2 linked regions of the Homo sapiens genome follow. The protein of the gene in region 2 purifies or fractionates together with the protein of the main gene of each other region. This does not show direct contact. Each region holds a gene or a part of one and is shown on either strand. Other genes may lie near its edges.

Evidence for each region. Proteins that work in one complex are often made in the same cells at the same time.
Region 1: the proteins of PHGDH (region 2) and ASS1 fractionate together in Homo sapiens (co-fractionation; one large-scale study listed by BioGRID). This does not show direct contact.

What each region holds. Positions count from the first base shown.
Region 1 is NC_000009.12:130,479,461-130,483,008, reverse strand, and holds part of ASS1 (argininosuccinate synthase), read right to left. Parts: intron 3,294-3,548; coding exon 3,209-3,293; intron 2,625-3,208; coding exon 2,560-2,624; intron 1-2,559. UniProt on the Homo sapiens protein: One of the enzymes of the urea cycle, the metabolic pathway transforming neurotoxic amonia produced by protein catabolism into inocuous urea in the liver of ureotelic animals.
Region 2 is NC_000001.11:119,709,971-119,715,729, reverse strand, and holds the start of PHGDH (D-3-phosphoglycerate dehydrogenase), read right to left. Parts: upstream 3,797-5,759; 5' UTR 3,708-3,796; coding exon 3,570-3,707; intron 3,000-3,569; exon of another isoform or gene 2,932-2,999; coding exon of another isoform or gene 2,872-2,931; intron 2,819-2,871; exon of another isoform or gene 2,270-2,818; intron 1-2,269. UniProt on the Homo sapiens protein: Catalyzes the reversible oxidation of 3-phospho-D-glycerate to 3-phosphonooxypyruvate, the first step of the phosphorylated L-serine biosynthesis pathway.

The sequences.
Region 1 (3,548 bases), on a different chromosome or scaffold from region 2:
GGGAGATGATACGACCTCCTCATCTGGCCCCTTGACAATTGGAGTTCCAGAGGGAGAAACTTGCCTAAGATCACACAGCAAGTTCTTGCCGTCAGAATCCCGATTTTCTTCCCTGTACGACACTGACTAAATTCTGTGCTTTTGGGGAGAGCCTCCAACAGCACACACAAAGTACCAGGGCAGAGTGAAGGCTGGGCTCCAGGAAGCTTTCCCCAGGTGGGTGGTAAGGAGCCACGGGGATTGGAACAGACTGTTGATCTCATGGCTTTGACCTTCTACGGGGATGAGGCCCCCATTCTGGGAAAAAGGTCCAGCCTCCGTGGAATGCTGTCAGCTACCATTCCACATTCAGAATAGTGCATTCCAGGTTTTCATCACTAACCACCTCCTTCAGTTCATTTTTGCTCAACTCTGCTTGACTCGCCCCACCCCACAGGATGCCATTTCACAGTGACTTCAGGCCAGTCCTTATCTTTCCAATAGGGAAGGCAATACACTTTCATCACGTATGCCAATCCTGATCATTTGGTAGTGCCTGCAAGCAGCCCTGAGATACCTCTGGAGTCAACAGGATAATGCCAGCATTGACTGGTGATGCCTGCCACAGGCATGGCAAGGGCATGCCTGTGGCAGGCCCTTATTATGATAAGACAGGTGCAATACTGGAACCCACCCCACCCCCCGCCACACTGACAGCTCCCAGAGGATGGGGGCTGCTTCTGTCCCCATTCCACATGCCCGGGGGACTGATGGCTATTTATGGAGCACTTCCAGTGTACCAGTTCCTGCCACCATACATGAGTTTGAACCCAGATCTGTCCAACTCCAGTCTAAGCTGTTAGCCCTCCACTCCATGCCACTCTGGGCCCAGATGGCAGTCCTGGTCCTGCCACTAAAGTGCCTGGGACTTGAAGCAAGCCCTCTATCCCACCCCTCCCCAGCCCTGGCTTCCGCATCTGTAAATGGGGTGCTGGTCTGTGGCTCCTCAAGGTCCCTCCCAGCTCTCCCTGGAGGGTGCACACCGCGCTGGCTCCCAAGGGCAGGCTGCGACAAAGGGGCATCTAATCACATGTTAATATAGGTAAGAGACAAAGGTAAGCCCGGATAAAAAGGAGCAGCTAATTAGTAACATTGTTCTCAAGGCCTCCCCAGAGCTTCAATTAGGTTGTTTCTCCTGAATAACAGCAAGCAAGGAGCTAAAGCCACAAGAAAGAGGCGAGCCTGCCTCCCCTTCCGCGCTCCCATGTCTTTCGAGGCAAGCCCGTCCCCGCCCCGGTCCATGCTGCCATGCCTTTCCAGGGAAACGCAGACAGGTCAGAGCCAGAGTGATGCAACTCCCAGCGCCTACCGCATTACACTTGGGGAAACTGAGGCCTAGCGATAGATGACAAGTCCAAGGTTGTTGGGCAAGGCAGGGCAAACCTGAGACCAGAAGCAGGCATCCTGCCCTCCGGACCACCACCCTTTTCTTCTGGCCCACATGGGGTGATCGGCTCTCTTTGGATTTTAGAATCTTAGTAAAAATAGCCTGAGAGACATGGGGCCGTGACTATACCGTGGCCAGGTGATATTTGGTTGTGGTATCTTTTCAAATCAACCCTAAGCAAAGAGACCTGAACATTTACCGAAACAGGAAGCCCTGACCCCACCACCAGTATAAAAATTCAGGTGCCCAATTCAGGGGCTGCAACTGCTGAAACCTTGCTCTTTCCCTCTTAGGACCCCCAAGAAAGAACACAGCATGGCTTTATCACACACTGGCAGACCCTCAGGGAGCTGAGATCCCCTTGGTGTATGAATGGGGAAACTGAGTCCTGGAGAGGAGGGTTGTGGTCAAGATGAAATGCTGATTGGCTGACAAAGGGAATCATGGGCTTTGGCTACTAAGAGAAGACAGAGGCACCTGCTTGGGGACCAACTGCCCTGCTCCTGGGCCCAGCCACAGGCGGATACGAGGCTAGGCAGGCTAGAGGCCAGCCGAGGTGGCAGGCATGTCACACTGAAGCTCAGCCTCAACTGCGGCACAGCCCCAACTGTGGCACAGCCCCATCCCTGGAGAAAAGGGCCAGTGAGCCGTGCCTGATGCTGGGACAGGTCCTTAGGCCCTGGCCGGCTCCCAGTGCCTGTGCAGCCACAGCGCCCACCCCTGGCAGGATTTTCGCCCTGCCTGGCCGGCGGCCTCCATGCGGCCTTAATGACCACGAAATCGGGCCTGCACGGTCTGCCTCCACACCCGGCCTGCCCACCCCAGACACAAGACAGCCTGACCTCCAGGCCTGGCCCTGGCCTCCCTGCTCCTCGGAGACTCCCCAGGCCCTCCTGGGCCTCTCCCAGCCCTTGGACAGCTCTTCTCATAACACCCTGAAAGTCAGGGGCAAAGGGCCCACGATCCCCACTTGGCAGGAGGGAAACTGCGGTCTCACGGGGTGTGGTGAAAGGACGTGCCCAAGGTCGCCCACGGAGCATGGGGGTAGTAGCGTCCAAAGGGGACAGGGTCTCAGGGATCTCTGGGTTTGCTGGGTCCCGAGGCAGGCCCTGAGGGAGGCTGAGCAGACTCACCTCGGGACTTCATTCCAATGAAGCGGTTCTCCACGATGTCAATACGGCCCACGCCATGCTTGCCCCTGTGGGAAGAACTGGTCCATTAGGTTCGGGCGCTACCGCAAGGCTCAGAGTCACCCACCCAGCTGGGCTGTCCCAGGGTGGGCACAGCTTAGGCCACACATTAGGCAGCATTTCAGGATCTAAGACTCAAGAGGACATCTGAGCCGGGTCACCTAGTCCAGGTGCCCACTGGACAGGTGGGGAAACTGAGGCCCAGAGAGAGCAGGGATTGCCCAGGTGTGAGTTCACATTGTTCCTTCCGTTCCCTGTGTCCTGGGGCCCTGCCTAGCGCCACAGCTAACTACTGCTCCCTTTCCTTCTATCCTGGCCTCCCATCCAGCCAAGGGCCTGAGAGCCCCGGCCTAATGATCCCTTGGAGGCAGGAGACCTCCTGGGGTTGTTATCTTCCAAGGCTAAGGACCACGGAGCCTCTCCTGCCAAATGGGTCCCCCTGGTCCGGGAAACTCTGTGGCTATGGGGAAGGGACATGGCCTGTGCTCCGCACCCCTGAGCCTCAGCCACAACCATTAGCTGCAACGGTCCAGGCTCGTGCTCGCCCGAGACGGCGGTTCCCAAGAGGCCGGACAGGGCTGCAGACACTCACGCGACTTCGTTCAGGTACATGAAGAGCTCCAAGGAGGTCTGGTGGGTGGTGCCATCCTTGACGTTGGTCACCTTCACAGGGACCCCTAGGGTGGGAAGAGAGGGCAGTGGGCCTCTGGGCCCGGCTCAGCGGAGGAGTCTGCACCCGCCACCCCACCCTCTCCCTCCTCCCGAAACGCCTTAAATGGATGTGACAGATATGGACTCCAAATGACTCCTTCAAAAGCCCTGTGCAGGTTGAGGCCTGCTGCAGGGAGAGAAGGGGCGAGAAAGCCCCCCAGAATGAAAGAGAAAATGCAATAAAAACGCTCTCCCCCACCCTCCCATTCTCTTTGCCCCTT
Region 2 (5,759 bases):
CTCCCGCTCCCCTGTCCTTAGCTGCTGTTCAGCTAGAAAACTGCTTGATTTATGGCTGTTCGAGACAAACTGCTAACTCAGCAATGGGAATCCATTGCCATTCCTCAGGTTCACACATGCTTCCTTTCCCAAGGGGACAAGCTTGGCCTAGGAGGTAATTCTAGCATTGCCATGCCTCTGACTTAAATCATAGGGCAAGACAATGAAACTATCCAGGTCATGTTCCCCAGCTATAGGGAAGGCAGGTCTACCCTGTTTTGCACAAGATGTGTGATCCTGATTAATTTGATGGTTATTTAACTTTTGCAAACTAAATCCTTGTGTAAAGGCTGGGAACTTCCTATTTTAAAGAAATTTGAAAAGAAATTTGGCATGGAAAGATTTATTCCCTTCTTAATCTTTCTTCAAGTACTGATATGAAGGTATGGATGTGCTTCAGTAAATTAAATACCATTACCAGTGTTTAGTTTAGTGGTCCTGACCAGCAATGCTACTTAATGAAACAGAAGAAAATACCAGAATGCATCATATGTAAAAAGAGTAAGTATTATTTCATAAAATTTGTGTGTGTCTGTGTGTACACATATGTATGAGTGTTTAAGTTATGACATAAAACAAATTTCTTATTGTGGGTCACAGTCAAAGTTTAAAAGCCACTGATACATGGTAATATTATTTAAATATTTTCCGGCATATTAGGTATATTTAAGATGTGAGTTCCAAACAAGATGCTTTATTATTTTAAGCCAACGTTTTCCAAACTTTTTTGACTGAGGTTCATTGTAAGAAACACATCTTTGTTGGTGGAGGGGTGGGACAGGGTCTAGCTCTGTTGCCCAGGCTGGATTGCAGTGGCGAGATCATGGCTTACTGCAGCCTCAAACTCCTAGGCTCAAGCGATCCTCCCACTAGAGCACCAGGTTGGGAAGAGTGACAGCAACCAGGGCCTCAGCCCTCCACCCCATCCCCCAGTAGCTGAGACTACAGGCTTGTGCAAGATGCTTAGCTAATGTTCGTATTTTTTGTAGAGACAGGGTTTTGCCATGTTGCCCAGTCTGGTCTCAACCTCCTCAGTTCAAATGATCTGCCTCCTTTGGCCCCTCCCAAAGTGTTGGGATTACAGGCGTGAGCCACCGCGCCCGGCCAAGAAACACATTTTTAAGTTGTAATTTCATACTCACATGCCACACACATACAACTACACAACATAAATGAAACAAAATTCATGAAACAATACTTACAACCTTACTATCTATCTGCATTGCTGTCTGATATTTCCTACTTTGTTTTTTAAAATGCTCGTCATGACCCCTTAAACTGAACTATGACTTGCTCCAAGTCTGAAAAGCACCACTGAAAGGGCAGGGAGGAATGATTGTACTTCCTGACCAGGGGGTGAGTGAGAGGAGACCGCCTGCCCAGAATACAAGGCAGTGGGAACCAAGGCCAGGCCCGGTTCTAGCAACGCTGCCGAAGCTTCCTTCAGCATTAAAGAGACTTCAGTGGGGGAGGGCAGGAGACACTATGCCAGACACCTCTTCATGCAGAATAAAAAGGCATAGTGTAGAAATGAGGACCCTTCAGTGGGCTGACCAAGGAGATTAATTGGCATTCTGAACCAAATGTGTTGCAAAGACAGACAAGAAAGCTGAGCCCTCCCAAACAGTCCAAAAATGCCCAGCAGTCAAGTTAGCCAACAAACACTCCTCCTCTCCTGCCAAGAGTTTTCAGCGCCTTTAAAATGTTCTCCAAGTTTCAGCACCAGACTCCCAGCATCCACCCAGCTGATTCCTGACTTCATGGAACAACCCCTCATTATGGATGAGGCCTCCCATTCCTCTCAATTCTGCCCTCATCCCTCCCTATCCCCACCCCCTCACTGGGGTATCAGGTTTCTAATTTCCTTTAGAGAGGTGAAAGCACTTGATTGCCACCCTCTTCCCAACCTGGTGCTCTGGTGGAGGTGAGAGTCAGAGGCTGTTCTGCAGGACACCCCACTGCCTTTCCTGGTTGTTCCCCAGAGCCACTGATACAATTTCACACAAGAAAGGAGGTGACAGATGTGAGGAGCCTGCCACCCGTCCAATCCTACTCAAGTCCTAAGCCCTTGCCCACCAATTCTGTGCATGATGATTGGACCTTTCTCTGGCTTTTCCAGAAGGGGAACACGCAAAGGTTAGGGAGCTGGATGGTCTAATTCGGGGCTATGCTCTTGTGTCATCTGCTCAACTGTCTCCTGCGTATTAGCCATGCTCCCTAACCAGCTTACAAACTTCTTGAAGGCAGGGACCAAATTCTTCTGAGTACAGGGCAGAGCTGGATACTTGGATATAGTGTCATGCCATGGTGACAAGATCCACGCCAGCAGATACAAAGGCAGACAAAGTGAGCGAGGCAGTTTCCAGGACCACGTGGTTGTGGCACAACTAAAGCAACAACAGCAGCCTCTGCGGTCTAAGGGGTCCTCGGAGGAGGAGACGGCTGAAGGTGGTGGACAGGGCTGAGGCGGGCAGAAGGCGGTTGTGCGATTTGGAGGGTGGGGGAGAATATACTGGATCAGGTGAGGTAGAGACTGGGCAGCTGGGTCGACTACAGAGGTCGAAAGTGCAGGCACTGGAGTGAAGAGTTCACAAAATAAATATTCCGGACAAGGCCACCAGGCCCAGCAGGCCTTTTCAAACACGGTGGATAAAGATTTGAAGTAGATTAATTATATATCACAACAAAAGGAGATAAAAATTTGCTAAGACTATAAATCATCTGGGAGCGTTTGGGATCGGATTCTAGTCGAGTCTGGTCACTCCCAACCAGCGATAAACCAAAGGTGGGGAGGAGGCTAAATCTGGACCCCAGCGCTCCCCGCCCGCCTCCCTTTCCTCCGAAGGCTCCCAGGAGGCAGAGGGGCGGCGAAAGCACGGAGCAGTCTTGCATCAGACGAGGGGCGGGTACGTGTTTGCTGCCTTACGAGGGCTGCCTTCCCCTCCAGCTGCCCCAGCAGCCACCAGACTGGTTGGGTCTCCGCCAGCTTCCCCCCGCCCCCCGACCCCCCCAACCCCGCCACCGCCAAGGCAGGCTAGAATCGGCGGGGCGGCCCAGAACTTGGTTGGGAAGAATCGCCAGTCCCTGGGTTCCCCGCAAAGAAGCCACTTTGGGGCCCCTCTCCCGATCGCCCCGCGCGGAGGCGGTTGGGGGTTGGGGGAGAGGCGGCGCGAGGCTGCCAGAACAATTGCGCGCTAAGGCGCTGGGGCGCCGCGCTGGCATCCCGCGCTGGCATCCGCGAGCAGCCTGCAGGACCAGTTGGAGCAGCCCGCACTTTGCAATGCTAGCGGAGGCATGCCAACGTGAAAGACGCGGTTGCAAACTAAAAGAAAAGTTTGCATCTCGCCGCCGTTTGTTCTTCCCTCTTTCTGCCTCCTCCCGCCCCCGTTCTTCTCTACCCCCCAATCTCAGGAGGCCCCGGAACTAATTGATACGGGGTGCATGCGAGGGGGGCGCGCTGGCCTGGGCGCAGCCAGCCTTTTTCCATGGAGGTTGCCCTAGAGACCTCAATTTTCTCTCTCTCGCCTTACCTGCAGCTCCGCTATCAGCTCCTCTTTGCTAAGGTTCTGCTTTTCCACCACCTGCAGCCCTCCATCTTGCAAGATCTTCCGGCAGCAAGGGTCCAGGCTGTCACTGATGAGCACTTTCCGCAGATTTGCAAAAGCCATTGCTGGAGTTGGCCTCGGAATCGGCCGCTGTGAGTAGAAGTACCTAAGCCAAGAAGCTGCGGTTCGGCCTGGCGCGCTAGAGTAACTGGGCAGTATTCTCCAGCTCCCGCTCCCCAGTCATCTCCTCCTCCTCCTCCTCTTACAGTCTCCTTTTGATTGGACGGAAATACTCAAACTCTCCGCGACTCCGCCTCCTCCTCGCGGCTCTGAGGTTGCCAAATCCCTGCCCGCTTTATTATCCTCCCGCGATGAATTTCTCCATCTCAGCCAAAGCTCTTACCTACACCTGGTGAGCATATAAAAAGCACAATTTACGCTGACTAGCTGATGCATATCTGAAATGAACGGAGAAATACACCTCATCCTGAGAGAAAAACTTCATTTTCACTTTTCCTCCTAAGGATTCATTTATTAATTCCTTACGAAATTTTTTTTGAGTGGGTAAATGTGCAAGGCACTGTGCTAGACGTTGAAGGGAATTCGACTATCAAAAAGAAAATGTCCAACAATGATAGACTGGATTAAGAAAATATGGCACATATACACCATGGAATACTATGCAGCCATAAAAAATGATGAGTTCATGTCCTTTGTAGGGACATGGATGAAATTGGAAATCATCATTCTCAGTAAACTATCGCAAGAACAAAAAACCAAACACCGCATATTCTCACTCATAGGTGGGAATTGAACAATGAGAACACATGGACACAGGAAGGGGAACATCACACTCTGGGGACTGTTGTGGGGTGGGGGGAGGGGGGGAGGGATAGCATTAGGAGATATACCTAATGCTAAATGACGAGTTAATGGGTGCAGCACACCAGCATGGCACATGTATACATATGTAACTAACCTGCGCATTGTGCACATGTACCCTAAAACTTAAAGTATAAAAAAAAAAAAGATACATCCTCTTTCCTCTGGTGGCCTAACATCCTAGAGTACCAAACACACAGACTTGGAAAGTTACGTAGTGAAAAGCAATAGGAAGCTTTCTGAGACACCAAGGAGCTGTGATTAATTTCAAATTAGTGATGCAATGAGAATTATGAGTTTATAAAAGAGCGGGGACCTGGTGCATTTAAACTAGGCATACTTTGTTAAAGTTATTTATTTCCTTTCCCTCCACTTCCTCTCTAATTATGAAAAAGAAGAAAAGGAAAACGGGATGTCAGTGTGGTTTAATTGACCAAGGAGGCACTTCTCAGCTCTTAACTCTTTTATATTTAAACCCCATAACCGACGTGCTCTCTCATGCCCCATTTTACAGAAATGTCAGAAAATTCAATTTGGGATTAAAGTCACCTAGAATCAGAAGCAGAATCAGAGATGCTCATAGTTGAATTAGAATTCAGCTTTATGGACATATCCAGTCCAACTAACCATTGTGTGTTATGTCATCCTGAGCTATTCATAACTCAAGTGCTAGATCCTTATCCTACAGAACTATGCAATATCAATTCTATAAAGTAATGAAAATTCTATACAGATAATTCCTGGGCACAAATCAGATTTTTAGACACAATGTCCTCAGTGGGTAAAAAAAAAAATTGTCTATCATGTTTGCTTGTTCGGATGAATTGTTATTCCTACATTCCAAGACTCATGAGTATTCAAATTCTCTGTCTCTCTTGAAGTGCCCAGCAGTACCCTGGAGTCTAGGGACAGACAGGGGACCTATCCCAGGAGGCTTAATGGAGGGTCTTGGGAAGCATCCATTTTTGTAACTGCTTTCCTTCAACTCCTCCCAGGGCTCACTAACTGCTTCCTTTCAGTGTAGAATCTAAACCCTGCTATCATTAACATGTAATCCCACCCTTTCACACCAAGTCAAACTTCTTGGATACTGTCTGAACGCACAACCCAGAGGGCCTCCTAAGCCTGATCACCTGTTTTCTTTATTTATTATTTATGACCCACCTACTTTTTAAACAGATCCAAGCCACACAATAAAAGACACTTCTAAACCGTTAAGAAAATAATTAACAGATTAAGAGTCCATTTCCAAGTGAAAAGGAGGGTGTGTGATAATTGTTACATAAGTCAGAA